4 linked regions of the Homo sapiens genome follow. The protein of the gene in region 4 interacts with the protein of the main gene of each other region in a pairwise test. Each region holds a gene or a part of one and is shown on either strand. Other genes may lie near its edges.

Region 1 (7,973 bases), on a different chromosome or scaffold from region 4:
TATTAATCAGAAAAATACTAAACAAATGTGTTTGTAGGGAATATTGAGAGTGAAAAACAATTGTTGAATGGGACATAAGCCAAAAAGACAATGCTTTTTATTATTTACAGAACGTAATTCTTTAGAAGAGAAAAAAAATACATAAATCATTCATTTGTTCACCTAGCCTGGCACTGTGCTTGGTGCTGGAGATACAGTAGTGAATAAAATAGCCAGTGCCTTGTAGAGTTTTGTGCCTGTCTACTAGGAAAGACAGGAGATTATACAGTAATTATATAAGATGCAAATTGTGATATGCCATGAAGAAACGTATAGCATTCAGAGGGACATAACACAACACAAGACATACCACATAAAACTGATTTTTTTTAAGATGGTCTCACTCTGTTGCCCAGGCTGGAGTGCAGTGGAGCGATCATAGCTCAGTGCAGTGTCGAATTCCTGTTCTTAAGCGATCTTCCTGCCTCAGCCTCCTAGTAGCTAGGATTACAGGCATGTGCCACCATACCCAGCATGTTTTTGTATTTTTTTAGAGACAGAGTCTTACAATGTTACCCAGACTGGTCTCAAACTCCTGGCCTCAGGTGATCCTCCCACTGGGCCATAAACTTGATTTTAACGTGGGAAATGGGAAAGCGTATCTCAGGACATTTTTGAAAGCAAGTTGATTAAGAAAGTAAAGAAACAGAATGGCTACTCCATAGAGCAGCCTCTGAGGACATTTATAGCTTTTGCAGTGACATGGTTGTCTAAGTGAATGATGGTGATGGTCATAAAAGTGGAGAGAAGGGGATAGAGTCCAGGTGAAGTCTGACAGGATGTAGTCATGGTTTGGAAGCGGAAAGTGAGGAAGAAGAAAGGGCTTCTGGCAAAAAAGGCTTTAGCCTTTATGCATGCAGGATCCCTGGGGGGAAAGAGTGAGTTCAGGAGCATGGCTTTTAGACTTACCAGGTTTACAAGGCAGTTGTATCTATGGAACTAAAAAATATAAATTTTGAAGTTGTATACAGAAATGGTACTTAGAGCCATAGAATGAATGAAATTGCTTAAGGAAAATGTAGTGTGAGATAAAGATCTGAGGAACTCCAACATTTAGGGCTGACTAGATCAGGGTAGCTGGCAAAGGGGACTGCGGAGTTGGCAGTGAGGCTGGAGGAAAACCTGGCAAAAGGGACTGAGGAGTTGACAGGGTAATGTCAAAGTTGTCCACAGGAATCTCCAGGTTGAGGTAGTCAAATGAACACTTAGATGAATACTGAAAAGTCCAGTGGATCTAGCAATATGAATGTCACCCGTGACCTTAGCAAAAGCACTTTTGCTGGAATAATGGGGAAAAGCCATTTTGGAGTACGTTGAAACAATGAATGGGAAGTGAGAAAGTAGATACTGGATGTATAGCAGTTTTTCCAAGAAGCTTGGCTCAGAAGGGTAGCAGACAGGATGACAAGTGGAAAGAGAAATGAGGTCACTGGAGGATTGTTAAAGAGTACAGCATGTTTGAGTGTCACTTGAAAGGTTCCAGTGGAGAAGCTGAAGAAGTAGGTAAAGGTAAGAATAACCAAGGGACAGAAGTCCTGGAGCAGGGAGGAGGGAATGGGATTCTTTAAAACCTCTTCATCAAGAAACTAGGAAAAAAAACCAAAGTTGTACCATCTCAGATTTCAGAGAAAGGGAATTTAGAAGGAAGTAATATAAGCAAAGAGCAACAATATTCTGTGACTGTTTTTAATAATAACTAGGAAAATTCCTAGTGCAGTTAACTCTGAACAAAATTCATTCCCACCTGCATAATACAAGATAGACTTACTCAGAGTGACCTTGGTAAAAGGTGTGATAATAAAGAAAGGAGGTGTCATTATGTCTTCATTGTAGCTTTATATGAAGCCCTGGTCATTTACCGTATCAGCATCAGCAAACTGAACACTGAATGATTCTTACTCCAAGAGGCAAGTCTTAGTGGTTTCTATTTTAACTGAAGGAGAGATTAATTTCTGTGCAAGGTTGAAAAAGGTGACCACAAATTCTTTGGGCTTCTTTCATCAAGAGGTGAAGTCCATTACCCCACGCCTTAACTCTGGGCTGGCTTTGTTGTTGTTTTGGCCAATAGAATATGGCTGAGGCGCTGCTTCCAAGATTAGGCCTGAATTGAGATGCCCTAGCAGCCAGGCAGCACCTGCCAGAGCATGAATAAGGCTATCTTGGACCGCCCAGCGTAGCCAACCTGTGCTGAATGAAGCCACATGAATATGCCCAGGAGAAACTAGCAGAAGAATCACCCACCTTGCCCACGTTAGAGATATAAACCACTATTTGAGGCAGTTTGTTATGCAGCAAAACTTAGCCGAAACTATTACCTTGCTACCTTGACTGCTGGTGTAATTTCCCATCTCATGGAGTCACAGAGTTTTCTTGCCAACTGCAGTGAGTTGGCAAATGGGAATGATCAGTAGCCTCAGTGTGTTTTCTGATCCACTCCATCCTGTATTATCATCTGCGAATACCGTTTTTCCTTTAAATGCAATGTGTCTTTCAAAGCTGACTTGAATTTCTCACCTTTCGAGTTACCTGCCATTTGGACTCACTTATTTGGAGGAGATATGTAAAGACCCAGCGTAATACCTGTATGCTCAATAAAAAGTATTTGCTGGTACTCCTTCCTGCCCGTCGTGTGACCTGACTGCTCTGGGCTTCTGGGGGCTCCCCCTAAACTCGCTCCACGAAATGACCCCTCCAACCTGGCACGCCCGCTCTCCTACCTTCGCCCAGGGCTGGCCGTTATCTCTGTGCTGTCACGCGGGGAAGTCCCATCTGAACTGGGGCCTTATGACCTTCGGTACTTTTATTCGAACGTAGCCTGCGTCCCTGCCTGGAACCTGGTTCCCGCCCTGAAGGACCCTTACTTAGCACTCCTGCGGGCTGCCGGGACCCCACGGCTCCGCAGGCGGAGAGACTAGGCGCGATCCCTGCGCGCCCCTCCTTCTCTTGCGCTTCAGGGGGCCGGCCCTCAGGGGGCGGGGCAGCATCGCGCGCAAGGCCTGCCGGTTGCTCGGGGTCGTATGACGCACTTTTCCAGCTCGAGCCCTCACGAGGCCGTGGGTACGACCGGAAGCCGCAGGTGGGTGAAGCGGAAACGCTTCAAACCGGGATGTTGCGGGCCGTAGCGCGTGGGCGGCCGTGGGGTCTTGGGCGCGCGCGGTGTTTCTGGCGGTGGGTCAGGACTTGCGGGTCGCCTCCGCCGGTGTTGAAGCCTCTTGTGTGCACACTTTCTCCTCAGCACTTGGGACGACCTAATTTCACTGTTAGGAACGGTTGATCCCGAACACAGGAGGGAGGGTAAATATCGTAAAACATGTTGGACGCTAGCTGTGTGCACGCCCCCTGGGAGCCAAAAGGGCGAAGTAAAACATGCACACGACCGTAATGAGATTCTGAGTAAGTTGTATATCATTAGAGAGGGGACAAAATAATAGGGTCTTGGCGAGGTCTTATGAAGAAGCTGCGCCTGCCTAGAAAGATAGATGGGATTGTGCTGTTTTCGCTTTCAGTTCAGTGATGGGGAGCCGTGTTTGGCAGTGCAGAGGTAGCGAAGTGTCCCAAGAACATGGAAGGTAAGGAAGTCTTCCGAGGAAAAACTTCAAAAAATTAGTCATTAAAGGGTGAGAGTAGAAAGATTCAAAGTGATTTTGAAGGAACAAAATTTAACCAGAACTTCAAAGGCTTGACACTATCCCAACGACTGTGAAATATCCTGAAATACCGTGCATTACTCAGTCGGGGTCTGATCCGCTACTGGAGCATAGAATAAAAAAAGAGGGGCACACCTGTGCCAGATGAATCCACGCCTTCTCTAGGGGAGAGAGGGTATCCCGGCTTAAGAGCAGGGGCTCTCCTGAGTTAAGGAAGTGTCTTCCCCAGAGCCCATTCCGTCAGACGTTCATATCATGTAACTCAGTCCTTTTCTGATTATGTATTCACCAAGCAAACTTAAGAGTTGGCTTGTCACCAGACCTACAGTGAATAATTGCACAGGCTCATCTGAATATCTGATAGATGGTCTATAGTTCTCTTTGTAAATCAATAAGCTGGCAGTCAGGGATTTTTGGACATCCCTTTGTTTTCACTTTTTCTCACTCTGTGTGATTTTTTCTTATCTTTCGGGGTTCAACTGAAATGTCACATCCTCACTGAGGTCTGTTTATTGGTTTACGTGTTCAGGTGCTTAGAACAGCTTCTTGCATCTTTTCTCACATGATGCCTTTTTAATGAGGCTTAGCCTAACAACCCTATTTAAAATTGCAATGTAAGTTTTCTCACATACACAGTTACAATCCTCCCTTTATCAGCTCTACATTTTTTTTTAATAGACTGAATCTCGCTCTGTTGCCCAGCCCATCTCGGCCCACTGAAACCTCCACCTCCCGGGTTCAAGCGATTCTCCTGCCTCAGCCTCCCGAGTAGCTGAGATTACAGGCGCCTGCCACCACGCCCAGGTAATTTTTGTATTTTTGGTAGAGACGGGGTTTCACCATGTTGGCCAGGCTGGTCTCAAACTCCTGACCTCAGGTGATCTGTCCACCTTGGCCTCCCAAAGTGCTGGGATTACAGGTGTGAACCACCTCGCCCGGCCATCTACTTTTTTTAATAGCCCTCCTTATCACCTTTATTCATTTGACTCACTGATGATTCCCAAGTGCTAAGAACAATGTCTGTCATGTAATTGATGAAAACTTTGTTGAATTAATACCTTTGTTGTGTTTTATTCACACTGTATATACAATACCTGGATGAAGAGAGATATTTTTAGCACTATTAAAATACATGCATTGGCTCAATACATGAATTGGATCAATTCTGGAACCCTAACAAGATCACATTTTTGACCAAAGTCAATATCTTGGACTATAGTTAATTTATCAAGGTAAATGCCACTTTGATGTGTCTTGGTTAGGAATCTTTGTTCACTTGAGGGAATACATGGTATATGATAGGAACAGTAAGCACAGAATAGAGATGGGAAAGGGAGAACCCTGTCATAACAGTTAACATTTCATATTTGCCAAACATGAATGGCTTATGCATATTAACACATTTAATTCTCTCAACCATTTTATGACGTCTGAGGCCACTGAAGCAGCTAGAGGTTAAACCACTTCCCTAAAGTCATTAGTAAGTGGCAGAGCCAGGATTAAAAATTTAAGTCCTTAACTACTTTGCCATCCTGCCACACTCTGCACATGCAGACAAGAGTAAGAGCCTTAATCTTGGGAAAAGATATTTCACAAGATCTTTGACAATTTCCATATCCACAGACACCATCCAGCTTATTAGTGACCACCACTCCTATTTGTTACTTTCTCCTTTAAGGCTGCCCCTACCTGAACTCTGGATCCCAGTACCATCACTTTCTCAAGGACCTCCCTTCTCCAGTGTTGCCCTCTCTTGACTCCCCTACCAGCATCTAAACATGCTCAGATCTATTGCATCTTAAGTCCTCTCCTAACTCCACATTCCTTTCTACCTACTGCCCTAGCTTTTCCACTTCACAACTAGAATACCCTCATTGTATCCACCTTGGGCCTCCTATTTACTCAGTACATCTGGTTCTTACCAAGATCACTGATAACCTTCTTGATACTGTTTAATAGATCCTTTTCAACCCTCATCTTATTTGCTCAATCTTTGGCATTTGGCACTGTTGACCATCTTGTCTCCTTGAAGCTTCCATAATAGCATATTTAAAATTTTTCTGCCTTTTCTTCTATCCTCAGCTTCCTTTGGGAGCTCTCCCTCCTTCTTCTGTATGTCCGTTAAATGTTGCTGCTCTTCAGTCTTATGTCGCAGGCCCTTAAATCTTCTCACTGAACCACCTTCCTGTGGCCTCAGTTACCATCCATTGAGCTCTGTGCCGTTGGCCGCTAGTTCAACAGTCAAAATGAACCAATTATCTTAACCCCATACTTCCTCTTCCTATAAAATCTGTCCTAGGAAATTTCACCTCTTTGCCAGGCCAGAAATCAGGGCATAATATTAATAAAATAGTTAGCACATATTGTGTACTTTCTTCAGTGCCAGGCACTCTTCTAACCACTTTATATGTATTAGCTCATCAGACTCAGCCTGATAATATGAGATGAGTCCTGTCATTATCCACATATTAGATAACAAATCTGAGACATAGAAAAGTAATCTGCCTTAGGTCATTCAACTGATAAAGGATAGAGTTGGGATTTGAATGAGGGCACTCTGGTTTGAGCTTGTAATCATTATATCATAAAGGACATGATGCTTGACTTCTCTTTCTCTCACCCTAATTCAACCTATTGCCAAGTATTGTACATTCTCCATGCTTAAAATCTCTAGGCGGTGTCCCTGAAGTATAAATCCAAAGCCTTCATGCCTGTAATCCGAGTGCTTTAGGAGGCCAAGGCAGGAGGACTGCTTGAGCCCAGGAGTTTGAGACCAGCCTGGACAACAAAGTGAGATTCATCTCTACAAAAAAAAAAAAAAAAAAAAAATAGCCAGGCGTGGTGGCACATGCTGGCTAAAGGGGGAGGATTGCTTGAGCCCAGGAGGTCGGGGCTGCAGTGAGCCGTGATCACACCACTGCACTCCATCCTGGGCAATAAAGTTCAAGCATTTCACTTGGATTTAAGGTTCTTTATAATCTAACATCTACTTCTCTTGCCTTCTTATTAACTCCCCATTCTTGTATTCCTAATAACCAGCCAGTAGAATTAAATTATTTGCATGGGTCCTATCTCCTTTTCCACTAAGCTGTTGCACATTGTTAGAATTCTTTTCTTTATCCCTTTTATGTCTCAGCTTCAATGTCACATCCACTAATTAGAGCATTAGATGGCGCTCTACTGTACTTAACACCTATCACAGCATTTAGGACACTGTATTTTAATTATTGCCTTACTTGTTTTTTAGTATCTCCCACTAGATTGTGGAGGTACTTGTTTCTTGAAGGCAAGGACAGGTTCACCTTCTTTTCTTTTTTTTTCTTTTAGACGGAGTCTTGCTCTGTCGCCCAGGCTGGAGTGTAGTGGCACGATCTCGGCTCACTGCAAGCTCCGCCTCCCGGGTTCACACCACTCTTCTGCCTCAGCCTCCAGAGCTGCTGGGACTACAGGCGCCCGCCACCATGCCCGGCTAATTTTTTGTATTTTTAGTAGAGACGGGGTTTCACTGTGTTAGCCAGGATGGTCTCAATCTCCTGACCTCGTGATCCGCCTGCCTCGGCCTCCCAGAGCTGCTGGTACTACAGGCACCTGCCACCATGCCCGGCTAATTTTTTGTATTTTTAGTAGAGACGGGGTTTCACTGTGTTAGCCAGGATGGTCTCGATCTCCTGACCTCGTGATCCGCCTGCCTCGGCCTCCCAGAGTCCTGGGATTACAGGCATGAGCCACTGCGCCCGGCCAGTTCACCTTCTTAATGTCACTCATATCCATCCCCTTCTCTCTCTCTCTCTCTCCTACCGTACTTTAGGCCCTCATTATCTCTAGCATGGACAACTGCCTTAGTCCATTAACTGTTCCCCCTGTCCCTAGTCCATCCTTTATTTAATCCATACTCAACCCTGCAGAGGCAGATTCGTATAACAGCTGAGTTAACACTTCCTGCTTAACACTTCAGTGGATCTTAGCTGCCTTTTAAAAAGTCCAAATATTTTGGTTCATTACATGAATTTATCTCCTCCCATTTTCTATCTCCTTATTACCTTGTACCTAGTAGGAACTCCATAAATACTTGTTGAATGAATATGGTACTGTGTCAAAGTCAGTCAAGCAGAACCAAGAACAAAGAGGTTAACCAAAGTAATGCAGTCTCGGTTGCGAGGCTTCCTAGGACAGTATAGCCATAGGCTTAAGTGGAAGTCGAAGACTAGTAGTGTAACTCTTTCTCTTAGGAGGGAATCCCCAAACATACCTTACTATTAGATGACTCTTTGTCTTTGCATATGCCTG
Region 2 (3,264 bases), on a different chromosome or scaffold from region 4:
ATAAAGACACATGCACACGTATGTTTATTGCAGCACTGTTCGCAATAGCAAAGACTTGGAACCAACCCAAATGTCCAACAATGATAGACTGGATTAAGAAAATGTGGCACATATACACCATGGAATACTATGCAGCCATAAAAATGATGAGTTCATGTCCTTTGTAGGGACATGGATGAAGCTGGAAACCATCATTCTCAGCAAACTATCGCAAGGACAAAAAAACCAAACACCACATTTTCTCACTCATAGGTGGGAATTGAACAATGAGAACGCATGGACACAGGAAGGGGAATACCACACTCGGGGAACTGTTGTGGGGTGGGGGGAGGGGGGAGGGATAGCATTAGGAGATATACCTAATGCTAAATGATGAGTTAATGGGTGCAGCACACCAACATGGCACATGTATACATATGTAACAAACCTGCACGTTGTGCACATGTACCCTAAAACTTAAAGTATAATAATAATAAAAAAAAGAGAGAGCATTAAGAAAATGAAAAAGCAAGCTGCGATTTGGATAAATATATTTGAAAAACATAATTTATAATGGATTAGTATCCAGAACATGTAAGGAATCAATAAGAAGACAACCCAATAAAAATTGGACAAAAGAAAACAGAGATTTCATAGAAAAAGAAACAGGAATGGACAAAGAAATGTAATTTATGCCTACTATGTGATATTTTATAATCATCTGGTTGGTAAAAATTAAAAAGCTAGACAATTTCAAAAAAAGAAAAAGACAGACTGGGCTTTAAAGATCAGTAGGGAAAGGATTGATTCTTTAATAAAAGGTGCTGGGCTATTTACTCATTATGAAAAAAATTATATCCGTACATAACATAAAATAAAGTCATACTGTAAGAAAAGGACAAAATAACTTCATAAAGCAGTAGAGGGAAAATGTCCTTATGACTTTAGGAGAGCTAAGAACCTCTTAAAACACAAAAAGCATTATCATAAAAGATGGATAAATTCAATGACATTGAAATTAAGAACTTCTGTTCAGCAAAAGACCCAATAGAATAAAAAAAAAAACAGGATAAAACTGTATGTAGACAAACGATTAGTACAGGGAATATATAAATCAATTTGACATCCAATACAGCAGTGTGCAAAGACTCGAATAGGCATTTTACCGAGAGAAAATATTAGTGGCTTCTAAATATATGAAAAGATGCTCAAGCTCATTAATAATCAGAAATGCAAATTAAGGCCACAAGGAAATAATACTCAAATCTCCTGTATTTGCAATACCTAAAAGATAATACCAAGCACAGAAGAGGATGGGGAGCATTGGGGTGACTCATCTATTGATAGTAGAGACATAAACTAATATAAGCACTTTGGAAATGTTTAGTGCTTCTCAAAAAAGTTGAACATGTATATACTCTATGATCCAGCAATTCCATTCTATGTCAATACTCTTAAACAGTGGTTCTCAAATTTTACTGTGCATCAGAGTCACCTGGAGGGTTTGCGAAACACAGATTGCTGGGCTCCTCCCACATAGTTTTGAATTCAGTAAGTCTGGGTAGGGGGCTTGAGAATTTGCATTTCAAAGAAGTTCCAAGGGATGCTGATGCTGCTGGTCTGGGAACCACTCTTCAAGAGCCATTGCTGTAAAAGAAACTTTTGCACTTACATATCAGGACATATACAAGAATATTAATAATGTAGTGCTTTGGTAGTAAAAAAAGAAAAACTGGAAACCCAAATATCCTTTAACAACAGGATGAATAAATTATGGTATAATCATACAATGAGATTTATATAGCTGTGAAGACAAATGAGATCATGGAGAGGTATGCAAGGGCTTCCAAGTTATCAATGATGTTCTAGTTTTTAAGGCAGGTGGATATTTTATGGGTATTCTAGTTATTCCTGAAACCGTATGTACAAATTTTGCATACTTACTTGTTTGTACGCACTGCTTCTCTGTGGCTACCACCTACTGGCCATTTTTCTACTCTCTAGCCCTACACAGAACATGTCAACTCATCTCAGAATTTGAGTAAAAGGGGAACAGTATTTGGGTCCCACATCTCTACTGCCTCAAATGTTTACACATACTACTACCCCCATCTTCCCTAGTTGCTTTCAGCCAATTCTCAAGTTATTTTTATACCCCACAAGCTCCTAATCACTCTTCTATGACTCTAGGCCTCAAAATGACACCCAAAACTAATTTAAGACTCCATATGTGGTATAACAGACAGTACTTCTAATAAAAACTGTCTCTTGCTACCATAGGTTTTTTTGGTGCAGTCCATGAAGAGTGTTCTTGCAAACTATATCAGACTGGTTACTCATACTGACTTTAGCTTATCTACTAAGATTCTTAGTAATATTCATATATGATGTTGAAGCTATACCTGAGAATGTAAGCCTTTTTGGACCAAAAGAATGGACTGAAAATTTTATCTTATTAGACTCAGCCTTTATGACTTCTTAGATAGAGACAGATAGATAGATAGATAGATAGACAGATAGATAGATAAAACTTCTCTCATCAATGCATTTCTACCATCCATTCTCTGAGGAGGCCTCTGCACTCTTTATAAATTTAATGAGTCATCAATGATATTCAAGGCACTGATCAAAAACTGAACAGGACTGGACCAAGAACAAAGATCTGAGCCATTTCACTAGAAGACTTCTCAATTCATCTGTATACATTAATGTATTACAGCCATTCAGTTGTTGTTGCTGTTTGAGACGGAGTCTCGCTCTGTCGCCCATGCTGGAGTGCAGTGGCATGATATCGGCTCACTGCAACCTCCACTTCCCAGGTTCAAGCAATTCTCTGCCTCAGCCTCCCCAGTAGCTGTGATTACAGGTGCCTGCCACCACGCCCAGCTAATTTTTGTATTTTTAGTAGAGACGGAGTTTCACCATCTTGGCCAGGCTGATCTTGAACTCCTGACCTCGTGATCCACCCGCCTTGGACTCCCAAAGTGGTGGGATTACAGGCTGAGCCACCGTGCCAGGCCAATTCAATTGGTTATTAATCCTCACTCACATTTCTCCATTTTACCACAAGGATATTAAGATAAACTGTTATAAAACATGTCACTAGACTCTAAAGAAACTGAGGATTTATCTAACTCTCTCTGGTCCTTCAGCCTAGTAACACTATTAGAACAGTATTGCTCTGTCATCTTGGACCATAGTGAAGACCACCCCTAGGGAATGACAGAATGGGAAAATGGAAGAAAGCTGGTCTCTAGCAACTTTGTGGAGTTGCCATTCCTGCCT
Region 3 (7,039 bases), on a different chromosome or scaffold from region 4:
GTTAAGGTTAGTATAATTTATTTAACTATTTGATATCGAAAAATAATCACATATTGGAAGTAGGATATTCTTGGAGGCAGGTTTATGTAATGAGAAAAAACGCAAGGTAGAACCAGACTTACTTGGTTCCAGTTCCAGCCCTACTATCTAATATCTGTGTTACTTTGAGCAAGTCACCAGACCTTCCAGTTCCTTTGTTTCTTCATCCATAAAATGAAGATAATAAGAGTACTTACCTCATAGGGTTGCTATGAGTTACTTTATGTCAACTGCATACTACAGCATATAATAGATATTAGCAATTATTTTAAGCTCTTCTGACACTTGGAACCAAACTCTTGACATTTGTCTTTCAAAAATTGCTTTTGTGCAGGACCAACATCCAACAGGGGTCTTTGAATTCAGGTACACCTTGAGACTCAAGATCATAGGCTACATTTGGTACCAATTTACCAAAAAGGTTACTGGACAGACCATATATCTTTCCAAGCAGCATCAGGTTTTTCTCTCAGCAGGAGTCTCAGAAGAAGCAGTTGGCATGGCAGTTCACACTGCCCTGTGATTGGGAAGCTGCTTTCCCAGGTGACAGACCAGGTGCAAGAAAGTGAGATCCACACCAGTGGAAGTGAGGTTCACGTAGGCTTAGAATCCTCATGTAAGGCGTATGTCTGGTAACAGTCTTGAATCCAAACTATAGGGAGTTAGACTAGTGTCCTACGAGTAGAAAGCATTCTAGTGTTTTGACACAATCTCTGTGAGAAACTTCCAAAAGCAAGAGAAGGAATATGTACCATGTCTTTTTGAATATTCCTCTTAGCTATCACTAATTACAATAGGGTTTTGGCAAGGGTTTGCTAGCAGACATTCCAAATTGACATAGTTGTCAAGGATTTATAGGTATTTAGTGTTTTTGAGAAAAGATCCAGGTATTCTATACAAACTACTTACATGGACGAAATGTTAACATTTTATGAGGAAACAGAAAATGTATTTTATTGTTGCTAAACTCCACCTTTTTGTAGTAAATGGCTATTGATATGTTTTTAAGAGCAAGTCCTTTATCCGTAAACATTTGTAGAATTGGTCCAATTTGTACCGTTGTTAAACTGAAACCATATAATACCACAAAGCACAGAAGAGACACTATAATAAAAGTAAGATTTATACAGGATAATATTTAACAGGATTCTATTTAAATTGGCGTATTAGGGTTATTTGCAAAACACATTACATAATTAGCATAAGAGTTAATTGAACATAATCACTTATCCATCTAGATACAAAAAAATGAGGCAGAACTTATTGATTTATGTTTGGGCATAGACAATATTGAGCAGCTTATTGTGACATTAATAGACTATCAGGCTCAGTTATTTTTATTTTTATTATTTATTTATTTTTTTATATGGGGTTTCACTGTCACCCAGGCTGCGGTGCAGTGACGCCATCTTGGCTCACTGCAACCTTTGCCTCCTGGGCTCAAGTGATCCTCCCTCCTCAGCCTCCTGAGTAGCTGGGGCAACGGGCACATGCCACCATGCCCACGCTTGGCAATAATTAACAAAACCTCCTGGAATAATAGCTCTTTTTTCTCTTTTTTCCCTACAGTTGGACAGTGTCACATCCCTGATCCAAGCAGCCAAAAATTTAATGAATGCTGTAGTGCAAACAGTGAAAATGTCTTACATTGCCTCAACCAAGATCATCCGAATCCAGAGTCCTGCTGGGCCCCGGCACCCAGTTGTGATGTGGAGAATGAAGGCTCCTGCAAAAAAACCCTTGATTAAAAGAGAGAAGCCAGAGGAAACGTGTGCAGCTGTCAGACGAGGCTCAGCAAAGAAAAAAATCCATCCATTGCAAGTCATGAGTGAATTTAGAGGAAGACAAATCTACTGAAACCACTATTCTACATATAGTGCCTATATGACAAAATCCTGCCTAACCACACTGCTTTATTTTACACTTAAGAAGTTCTGTAATTTCACTAAGTTTTGGTGTTTAACTCACAAATAACATAAAATATTGGGCGCTAAATCAACAAAAGCAATATATATTTGGGATCATATCACTGTCATTTCTGTATGGTCAGCACCTAATAGTTAAGGAATATTTGCTTGTTGAATGAATGAAATTATCACGTGTCATTCAGCGTTTCCCATCATAGAGATTATCTACTATTCGTTACCAAATAAACACAGGAGAGGCCAGAGAGTCCTGTTTATCTGTAATACTTCATGTACACTTATCATCCTTATCTTGAATTAAAACACTAACATGAGCTCCTAACTTGGTTTTTTAATAGAAACAAAAGACTTTTATAAAATATTTTCCCATTTAATCTCCATGCTTTCTTTATCTGATCTAACCTGGCACCTAACCAGGCAGAAATGTATGATTCCTGCCATAGCAAAAAAACCACCTTTTAATCTCTAGATAGCTGTACTCATTGTCAACTTATTAGGCTAATATCCATTATAAACTAATCAAATTTGAATAGTTAGGCTACTTGCTGGATTTTGAAGGTCAACCTTGTTTATTAATAAAATGCTTTCTTAACATTATAAAGGTTACAATGAGTTCTGATGCCACATACTCACCTTTTGGGTTTCCAATGTGTTAGAGAGTTCTGTACTTTTGAGTGTTAGGCCTATCCGAATACATATGTGAAAGAAGAGTTATCACCCATTGGGAAAATGAGACAACAAACTATATCCCAAAGTGAGTTATATTAATAATAACAGAAGTGTAAGTTCTGTATGACCCTATTTTTACAAACATAAAAATACATTTTTATCAGCTTGCAATTGTAATTAAAAGGAAAATGGCAGTTTGAAAAATCTTTTGACGTTGAGTAAAATATAACTGCATGAACTGTACCATTGAACTATGAAGCAGTTAATGGCAATGAAGCTGGAGTGATTTTAATAACGTTCTTTTAAATAAAAGTCACTGGGGTCATTTTACAACTCCAGTCACTGTGTTCATTCCTAGTTGAGTTCATAATGGACTTCATAATAGTCTTAGAGTCTAGTGTACCTCTCTCTGTCATTCTCTCTCTCTTTTTCTCTCCCCTGATGACCTGCCTCTCTCTGTCTTTCAAAAATGTCCTTAACAGAAACTCTTTGGAGGCCATAAGTTTTGTTTTCATTTTTTCTCATTCATAGAGTTCTGATTCACAGACTTTAAAAAACATTTTCTATTCTACATTATCATAATAGTATTATATTGTACCTTTTTACTTCTAAAACATTGCCATTGATGAGAGGCGTCTCAGCAACGATGTAACCTTAGATTGATGAGAAAAAAATTTACACATACAATACCAGTTGATATTAGGAGAACCAGTTTGGGTAAAAGGATGCATGAAACATAGAAAAGCATAAAGATTGACAGTACGATATGTGTGGAATCTTAAGCATAATGGTATGGGAAAAGAAGGATCTATTTAATAGGTCATTATTAATTATGCAGGAAATGTTAAATTTCTTGTAATGAATTATTTCAATCTTCCAAGTAGCTGGATTGCCTGAGCTCAGTGTAAAACTTCCTAGGAGGTGAAGGCAATAAACTCCTCCCTGTTTTGCACCATAGACTGGCCTACAATAACTATTCTGAACAGAATGCACTGCCCAGAAGAAAAGGCAGTGAAGAAGGGAATTAGGGAATTCAGATGACTCTGTTTTTCAGAATTATCTAGATGATTGAGGCAAATAGAGATTTTCTTTTATTGAAATGCTGCCATCATTTTCTGCTCTAAGTGTAGATGTTGCACGAGTGACATCTGTGGTATATCCTTCTTCCAGATAGAAGTATAAATTTATAATTTAGTGGGGAGAGGAATTTTCTTTTAATCACCAAACTACCAGCTGTATAGAAAATTTTTTTGAAATCACCAAACTAGCAGTTGTGTATCTTAGCTCCTAAAGCCACATTCACAAGAATCATAAGCATCTCATTTAGAAAATCTAATGTCCACCGGACCCAACATCATCTTTCCACATGTTGGAGTTTAGAACATGCAGTATTGGACACCAAAAGAACAGAAATAACTTGAAATTATACAATTACCAAATAACCTCCATCTCTTTGATAAAAATGACTTTTTACCCAAAGTGAGATGTGAACAAGTTCTCCTCTTTAACCCAGGCAGATTTTCAGCTTAGCTCAAAGCAAACTATAATTAAATAAAACAATAAAAATTTTAACTCAATGAATATCCTAGGAGTTAATCTGCTGTGGTAATCGATAGTGACATAAAAACAAGATGCATAGAGCTGAAAAAGGCATCTGTCCACCTGAGTGAATTCCTGTAGTAGGCAGCATTTCAAGATTTAGTTTGATTCAAACCTGCTGATAAAACAAATGCTTATATGCAAGAAAAACTAGCAGCAAGATATGAATAAATCTCCCCATTATGTTAAAAACTAATCAGCATGACACATTTATATTTAGGTATTTCTTCTGCAGAGGATTGCCAGAAATTTCTTAATGAGAGTGATAATTTGGTGATCCACCTATGTACCTTTTGATGTCTCATCACAGAGATTAGTGCTTCCTCTGATAATACATTTGCTTGATCCTGCTAATAAGAACTCACCTTTCTTTTTAACGAAATCAATTTGTGTTAATTTACATAGGGAAAAACGTTCCTTGAGAGGGAGGAGAGGGGTGTTTACCACCCACAGGAGCAGTTCCATCCCTGGTTACCCACCAGTATCCCTGCCAGATGTTAGACTGGAATTAGAATGAAAATTTAAAAAAAAACGAAATAATAATCCACTAAATGGCCTTCTAATTAGAGAAATTTGAAGATTTCTATCAAATATAAAAAGTGAGAAATAGAAATCATTCCCTTTAATTTATGACAAATTAAAATTATTGAAGTAAAATGTTTCTAAGTCAGTTTCTGGATAGTTCTTGAATGAGTCAAGAAAAAACTCAAACACTAAATTTCTAAGCTAATTTGTTCATTATTCCTTTCTGTTTATTATTTATTATATGAGTGCAAATTGCAAATGTATTAGAAAAGACAATATAGCCTTCACATTCACAAGTGTGCCTTCTGGCCTTTGAAATCTTTTAACATAAGATCAATATAACATATTTGTTCCCCATAAAAATCTCTTATGTACAGGGAATAAGGTCCTCCATAGCTACACAGAGACACCCATTCTTGCAGTCTGGCATTCTTAACACCTTTAGCTTCAAAGGCAGTCGGTTTCAATTTCAAGCTAAAATTGTGAATATACAATTAAGTGCGCAACTTGGGCCTTCAGACCAAATAATTAATGCTCCTCAAATTAAATAATGAGTGGCTGAAAAGCCTAATGTGTAACAACAGAGTAAGTGACTTCAACGGCTTCCTGAACCTTCATTTTGAGGGTGTTCTCATCTCACCCACCTCTGGGCTAGGTATCCTCTGTTAATTGCTAACAATTTCCTACCAAAATAGTGCAATCAGGACTGCCCATCACAGCAAATTACTCCAATTAATGCCCTTTCCTCTTCTGTGAACCAAAAATATCTCTCTCCTGTCTCTCATCTCTATCCCAGGTATAAATTGACTAATAAATTTTACAGAGTTTTAGTCAAAATTATGAATTTTAATTTCCAGCAACATTATTCCTTTAGTCTTTCTATTCCCCAAAACATTCTTAAATTTTGGTATCAAATGTTCATTTCTGTCCTAGAGATTGTGGTTCCCATGGCTACAGATTTTTGTATAGTGGTAGTATGAGTGGAATAAGATCTGAGACTTTTCCTGGTGATATCCACCATTCTCTTGTGAACTCATTGCAGAATAAACAGCCTCTTTCACTTTCATTGTAAGTAGTTCTTTAGGTTGGCAAAGCAGGCACCAGAATCTGAATTTGAATGAAATCTGTACTTTCTTTTGTTGGCCTATTTTTTGCCAAGACAGCCTGCCTATTGTATATTTAGGAATCAAATATTCATTTTTTCTGTTTGTAAAGCCAGAAATATTTCAGTTAAAAAGAATATAATTTTATATTATTTTAATAATTCTTTTTAAGTAAAGTAGGAAAATTTCTGCCACCTGAGATGTTACTGTTTTTATTTATATGAAAATTCCATTTTTTTCTTTATGACTCTTTTCCCATACCATTATGATATGTTCAGCATTAGTATTTTCCATTTTACCACTAAACAAATAAGCCAGGACTAATAACAATAGCAGTTTGAGAGTTTTTATTTTGGCATTTTGGTTTTAATTAGGAAAGAAAACATGGATGCTATTAAAACTAGTTGTAGTTAAAAATGTTTTGAATGAGGCTACTAACGCTATCTTAGTCATCTCAAAGAGAAAGAGAAGAAGTAAAATTTTAAATACCTTTTTGGCATTTTTAACCAATTCATATGAACAAAAACATATATTCTATTAAAGCAAAATAAAGAATAGTTTAAAACACTAGTCTTCTTGCATGTGAATATTTTCCCCCTAACAGACAAGATAGAATCCATTTCTGGACACTCTAAAAGAAAGTAATGTTAATTGAGAGAGCTGTCTCCAAATGGAACTCAACCTGACCAGAATCCCATCCGCAGGCAAGAGATGGGCTGTGGGGCCGACCATAAGTTTTATTCTGAGACGAGATGCTTTATGGCTGCTGGCTGCATTATGGCATCTAGCAGTCCCCACTGGTTTGTGGGAACAAAACACATGGATTGATATTCAATATGAGTTTGGTAAGTTGGAGAAAAATGGAGACGATACGGAGTAGTCTAAAGGCACAACAAATAAGAAGGTGCCAGAGGTAGGGAAGGGTCTGAGAGGGGTAGTTGCAGAAGCATTTAGCTTTCATAGATGAGGGGAGAGTTTTTTGGTTTTATGAAGATTAGGCAGCCCTCCTGAGGAAAGTATTAAGGATAGAATGAGACACTTGTCTTGGTGGTTTGGTGAAGTCGTGTCGAAGGCAAAAGGATGAACTACACATATTTTGAGCATGATTTAGTAATATTGTTTGCAAGTTGAGAAACAGAAATTCAGCCATTCTCCTGACTGATGGTAGGTGAAATTCTT
Region 4 (7,039 bases):
CATTACTTGCTAGTCTTGTGACTTTAGCAGAGATAATTGACCTCTGGAACCTCAGTTCCTTCATCTGGAAAATGGGACTATAAAACCTGTCCTATTCTTCTTCAAATGATGTGTCATCTTCATTAAAATACTTAATAAACTGTAATGTGCTACGCCAAGCCTATTTTTGTTACTAGTTAACATATCATCAACTGGCCATCAGTACTGCGAATAACTCTTTTAAAGTACATCAATCCACTCCTACACAATTTATATATGAACCTCAAATGAAGGATATGTACATTATGATATTATGATGGCAAAAAAAAGACTGATCCTGAGATCCCTGTCTATGCAATAAGAGTTTAATCTTTCAAAATGTTTAAGAATGTGAAAGTTAAGCCCAACAAATAGCATCGTGTCCACATATGCATGGAAGCCACTCCAGAATTTTTTAGTACAAATTTAATATTACAAAAAGCTTTTTTTTTTTTTTTTCTGAGATGGAGCTTCGCTCTTGTTGCCCAGGCTGAAGTGCAATGGCGCGATTTCGGCTCACTGCAGCCTCCACCTCCTGGATTCAAGCAATTCTCCTGCCTCAGCCTCCGAGTAGCTAAGATTACAGGCACTGGCCACCATGCCCGGCTAATTTTTGTATTTTAGTAGAGATGGGGATTCACCTCTCTATTTACTTTATTTTAAAATCATCTCACCAAGTTTTTAGATATTGTAAAAAATAAATTCCAGCATCTTCAAAGCATAAAGTCTAGTGACAGACATCTGTTTATTCTAATACTATGAGAGTATATTATCTGTTTATTAAGCTAGAATTTACTGAAATGTATTGTACACATCTCTTATCTGTCTTTTTAGAGATAAAACTAACTTATATTGCTTAGGTGAAAATAGAAACAAAAGGAGATTTTAATAAAAACTTATCATATGATTTTCTCAGGGCACAAAGAAATTGTTCACTGACCTCGCTTTAAAACACACTTAAAATTATGTAATTAATATTCAGTTTTGCCAGCTACATAAAACATATTCATAGTGACATGAACACAAATTGCAAGAAAATTTTATGTACACATACTCCACATAAATATATGAAAATATAAAGGGACATATATGTCTATAGCTACATCCCTAATGACTAAATTCTAAAGAAAGCTTCTACCAAATAAATGCATTAGCAAGTAAATATACTGGATCTCAGAATGTTTAATCAATGATAAAAATGTATTAGCCTTTAATGACACTTGCTTTATTCACATGGTAATGTGTTCAAATAATATACACCTAAAACTATAAATACCTAATCATACCATCAGATATCAGAAAGAATAAGTACCTAGTATTTGATAGCACAACAGGGTGACTATAGTCAAAATAATTTAATTATATATTTTAAAATAACTAAAAAAGTATAACTGAATTGTTTGTAACACAAAGGATAAACGCTTAAGGGAATGGATAGCCCATTTTCCATGATGTGATTATTATGCACTGCATGCTTATATCAAAATATCTCATGTACCCCATAAATGTGTACACCTACTATGTACCCACAAAATTTAAGAATAAAAAAATTAAAAATACTAAAAAAAAGTAAAAAGATCAATTTCAAATGGATAAACAGCTGAATGACAAAAACATAAATAGGGACTCAACTGAATGACTATTTCCTTTGGCTCTGTTTTTATGTAATCCCACATGCATCCATCCATACAAAATATATGACAGTGATATATGGCACTAATGACCAGTGATATACAGCGTCTCCGAATGAGCTAAGTAGTACCTTGATTCATTCATATTCGTTGAGTAAATTTTGTTTCAATAAATTGTGTTTCTTTGTACATTTCTAGCCCTAAAAAATGTGCAGGTAAATCACTTCTATGTTTCACTGGAGAGTGTTTGTACTGCCACAACCATTGAAAGCTAACATTTCACAATCTTGCAAATCACAGTCTTGTTAATACTTTTAAAATGTAGGTTGTATTTTAACTTACTAATGAGGGAAGTACATACACAAAGAGATAGACTATTTAATTATCTTACAACTCTCATTCCTGATTTTACATCAACCTGCACAAATTAAGGGGAAAAAGATTTAGTCACACATTAGAGGTTAGGGGGATATCCCTCAAAGTACACCATCAAGTGGTAAGTAGGTAACATTATATAAACATACACATATATAGTGTAGAAACAACATACAAACACACATGTATTTAGACAATGAAAATGTGAAAGCATAAATTTATCCCCATTGAGAAAAGGAAACTCTTGTACAACTTTGGTGGGGATTTAAATTAGTACAGTCATTATGGAAAACAGTATAGAGGTCTCTAAAAAATTAAAAATAGAACTCCTACCACATATGATTCAGCAATCCCACTTCTCAATATATAGCCAAAGGAAATAAAATCAGTATCTTGAAGATATATCTGCACTCCCATGTTCACTCACTGCAGTATTATTCACAATAGCCAAGATACGGAGTCAACCTAAGTGTCTATCAACAGATGAATGGATAAAGAAAATGTGGCATATATACAAAATGGAATACCATTCAGCATTGACAAAGAAAAAATAATCTTGTAATTTGCAACTACATAGGGGAACCTCGAGGACTTTATATTAAGTGAAATAAGCCAGGCACAGAAAGACAAATACTGCGCGATCTCACATATGTGGAATCTAAAAAAAAAAAAAGTCAAATTCATAGAAGCAGAGAGTAGAATGGTAGTTATCAAGGCTGGAGAACAGTGAGGGATTGGGTAGATGTTGATCAAGGAATACAAAATTTTAGTTAGACAGGAAGAATAAGTTCAAGAGATCTATTGTATAACATGGTGACTACAGTTAATAACAATGTATTGGATGCTTGAAAATTGCTAAGAGAGTGGATTTTACATGTTTTCACCACAAAATAAGTATGTGAGGTAACTGATTTGTTATTAGCTTGATTTAGCTGTTCCACAATGTGTACATATATCCAATCACCATGTTACACACTATAAACATATATATTTTTGCCAATCAAATAATGAAGGATTATCCCCACAAATACTTTAAAGAGTAAGAAAATGCATAATGTAATCATGCTCCAGACTTCTTGTCAAAAAAATAAAAATAAAGAAATTGCATAATGACTTAAAAGTCTCATAGAGTAGAACCCCAAATCTGATAGCCACAGGTAAAACTCCTCCTTTATTCTTCAAATGAAAAAAATAAAACAAAAACAAAAGATACTTAAGGCAGAATATCTCAAACAGAGATCCAAAGATAGATTTTGTCAGTGTAGGAAAAATTTTGCTTTTGTTTTTGGGGGTAGCCTCTAAAAGTTGGAAAAGCCAAGGAAACAAAACCTTCTCTAGAGGTGCCAAAAAGGAAAGTACTGCTGACATATTTATTTTAACCCAAAAAGACCCATTCAGACTTGTGCCTTCTGGAACCATAAGATAATAAATTTGGGTTGTTCTAGGGCAATAATTTTGTGGTGATATATTATGGCAGCAAAGAGACAACATACCATTCCCCTTGAGGATGTTGGTGACAGTGAACCCAATACAACTATATTCTTCTGTAACACTCTGTTGAAAAGTCAAGTAATTAGGATAAATATCATTTCAATGGTAAAGCCATTGCTGTCACCAATGTGAGTGGATATACTCAGAGGCTTAGCGATTTTACCTATGACATTGGTGTAGTTTTTTTCTCTTAATGATACAATGCATACTTCAGAATGGAACAAAGCTGATCTGTATTTGTCATACAATGTATAATGGAGAATGCTTAGATCGCATATTTCTTTACAAATGCGAAAACAGACAAAAGAAAATTCAAGTTTTTGTTTCTATGACCACCAGCTCTTAAAAGTCTCTGTTGTACAGGAAGTAAGATTTCACTTTACTTCAGTTCTTCTCAGACATTAATATACATATTAGTAAGTAACTGGGAGGTCTTGTTAAAATGCGGATTCTGATTCAGTATATCTAGTGTGGGGCCAGGAGATTTTGCAGTTTCTAAGCATCTCCCAGGTGGTGTTCATGCTACCACTCTATGGAACACACTTTGAATAGCAAGGGAGGGATTCAACAATCCCTACCTGAGGCTCCATATCACAAACAATACTGAATTCAAAATGTTTCTCTCTGCATTCAGTATTACTAGTTGAGAGAAGAAAAATAATCTCAAACTGACTTCCAGCATCTTTTAACCATTTATTAGTGATGGAAGTGAGCCTAAATAAAGTGTCTGACTCATTACTTTATTAACTAACATAGATATTCAAAAATAAATTCATGTGGCTATACTTTTGTCTTAGAATAATGAGGAGTCAGGACTGAGCATTCTAATACCTAATGTAATATTTCCCACTATTACAGAATATATTTCTTCTTCCACATTTTACAATGCCTGGATCTCTTCCAATTGTTGCTTTGTTGAGAGGTGATATGGTTTGACTCTGTGTCCCCACCCAAGTCTTATCTGGAATTGTAATCCCCACATGTGGAGGGAGTAACCTGATGGAAAATGACTGGATCATGGGGGCGGTTTCCCCCATGCTGTTCTCATGATCATGAGTGAAATGGTGTAAAAGTGTTTGGCAGTTCCCACCTCGCTCTTACTCTCTCCTGCTGCCATGTAAGACGTGCCTTGCATTTCTTTCAACTTCCACAATGATTGTAAATTTCCTGAGGCCTCCCCAGCCATGTGGAACTGTGAGTCAGTTAAATATCTTTTCTTTATAAATTACCTAGTCTCGAGAAGTTCTTTATAGCAGTGTGGAAACAAATTAGTACAAGGGGATTTCAACACAACAAATTTTCGGTCTATGAAAGGGCAAAGCTATTTTGAAAATGCATCTCAGATAATTACTTTCTTAAATGGCACAGCTATTCCATCCATAAAACATACAATAGGTACATTAAGCTAGCCAAATAAGAAAATATTGAATCATTAAATTAGTGTATTAGAAAAGTTATATAATAATATAATCTATGTTTTAATAAAATCCACTCATGAAGTGCTTTCAACATTGGTTGGTTTGACAGTAAGAAAGAATATGGGTTTATGTGCCTTCTGCCAGTGAAGCCATTGGAGGTCAGCACAATGAGCCCTTTCCCCTTAACTTCAGCCTTTATTTATGTAAAAAATGTCATCTCCACTAAGGAAAAAAAAAGGAAAATATTACAGGTATTAGAGGTTCAGAAGGAGAAAAGAAACTAGGGGAAAATATACATGTTATATGACTGTGTGTGTGTGTGTGTGTGTGTATGAATTTACATATACGTGTGTGTGTGTGTGTGTGTATACACATAAATTTTTTGAAAAACAATGAAGATAGGCCTCACTGTAGCTCCTTAACTTATACCTGGTAGCTTAACAGTTGAGCATACAGTGTCTAGAATAACACCTGCCCTCAAATCCTGGCTTTGCCACTTAGTAGTATATGACCTTGCATGAGCACCATACACTAATATTTGCCTAATAACAAAAGTGCTTAGGGGAGTATATAAGCCACATGTTTGCATGACTGTTTTTAGAAGCTTGAAAGAAACTGTCCCTAACTCCAAGGGAAAAGAAGCTAAGGAGATAGTTTGCTAAATTTTGCCACCCTGACAATAATAGCCTCAAAGATTCTAAGGATCAACCCAAATGCACATATGTCTAGTTGTTAAATAATAGGACACCTTTTGTGAAACAAAAGGTAAGACAGATATTGTTCTAGATTTCTTTACAGATGGAAGATGTAAGGTGAAGCATTTAATTGACTAACAGTATAATTTCATGTATCCAGTTGCCTTATACCTAGATCTCTGGTTTAATCCAGGCAATTTTGCCACTAGTTGGCACAAGAATGACCTCATTTGGACAGACAGGTTTCAACTTATTTCCTTAAAATTTTATGCAGAATGGAAAGGTATTAGGATATCAGTGATAGCTTCTGAATATGCCAGTGTCTCAAGCTCCCTTCTTATGCATAATATATCTCTAGAATTATCGATATTTGCTCCCAAACTAGTGTACCTAGATATAGTGTACTCAATACAAGTATATTAAGAAACCACCAATTTCAGTTTTAGCTCACTGACTCCACAATAAAATAAAAATCAACAATTCAAATTTTATTTATTCTGTTGGAGATTACACTATAAAAATATAATTCCCTCTGGAAGTATGATACAATTTTAAAAGCAGAAGGAAATAAATGTTTTTAAAATGTATTTTATGCAAATTTTCATGCTATATTTTTTCAATCAAGACTGAGAGAGTGTGTTTTAATAAAATATCTAAAACAAATGTAGGTATACACCATTTATTTGGGTAATCTTACAAATCTCTAACTTTGTAGAAGTAATATGGTGTTTATGGAATGTATGCACACACACACACACACACACACACACACACACACACACACACATCTCAGATTCCAGAGATTTAGATCCTAGCTAAAGCTCTGCCAAAAGTTCATTATATTGACCTTAGTCAAGCATAACTTGGTGATTAGAAGTCAAACCCGTGATTGGGTCTTGACTGTGACGTATAGTAGCTGTGTGGTCCTGGGAAAATCAACTGCTTTGAAATATGTTTTCTCATTTGTAAAATGGGAAATAATACTATACACTCTTTCATATAGATTTTGTGATGTTTAAATGTAATAAGATATATAAAGTTTTTAGCACAATGCCTGGCACTAAGTGCTTAATAAATATTAGTGTTTATTAATGCTAGTAAAGTACCTCACTTCTTTGGGCTTCAGATTCTTTACTTGTAAAATAAGGGGATTGGCTTATCACTATAAAATCTCTCCCAACTTAAACTCTACAACTTAAATGAGAAAACCCAATGTCATCCTCCCAGATAGAAATTGTAAAACAAGCCTTAAAAAACGCATGTCACACTCAGTTTTTTTCATATTTTATTTTGGGCTCTCTAAACTTAACAGCATATTTCTAAGCACCACATTCTATCCAGAGTTGCTTAAGTTTGATCAGTTTTCTCTATTGGTCTATGTGTAAATGTCTAGGAAAGTCTCAATTACTAT

Evidence for each region.
Region 1: the proteins of HDX (region 4) and TSGA10 interact in binary tests that used the Homo sapiens proteins (3 or more experiments, as listed by UniProt).
Region 2: the proteins of HDX (region 4) and TTC5 interact in binary tests that used the Homo sapiens proteins (3 or more experiments, as listed by UniProt).
Region 3: the proteins of HDX (region 4) and CTNNA3 interact in binary tests that used the Homo sapiens proteins (3 or more experiments, as listed by UniProt).

Annotation. Positions count from the first base shown.
Region 1 is NC_000002.12:99,151,937-99,159,909, forward strand, and holds the start of TSGA10 (testis-specific gene 10 protein), read right to left. Parts: upstream 3,007-7,973; 5' UTR 2,757-3,006; exon of another isoform or gene 2,388-2,756; coding exon of another isoform or gene 2,355-2,387; intron 1-2,354. UniProt on the Homo sapiens protein: Plays a role in spermatogenesis. When overexpressed, prevents nuclear localization of HIF1A.
Region 2 is NC_000014.9:20,285,714-20,288,977, forward strand, and holds the end of TTC5 (tetratricopeptide repeat protein 5), read right to left. Parts: 3' UTR 514-3,264; downstream 1-513. UniProt on the Homo sapiens protein: Cofactor involved in the regulation of various cellular mechanisms such as actin regulation, autophagy, chromatin regulation and DNA repair.
Region 3 is NC_000010.11:65,915,187-65,922,225, reverse strand, and holds part of CTNNA3 (catenin alpha-3), read left to right. Parts: intron 1-1,608; coding exon 1,609-1,896; 3' UTR 1,897-7,039. UniProt on the Homo sapiens protein: May be involved in formation of stretch-resistant cell-cell adhesion complexes.
Region 4 is NC_000023.11:84,492,451-84,499,489, forward strand, and holds part of HDX (highly divergent homeobox), read right to left. Parts: intron 1-7,039.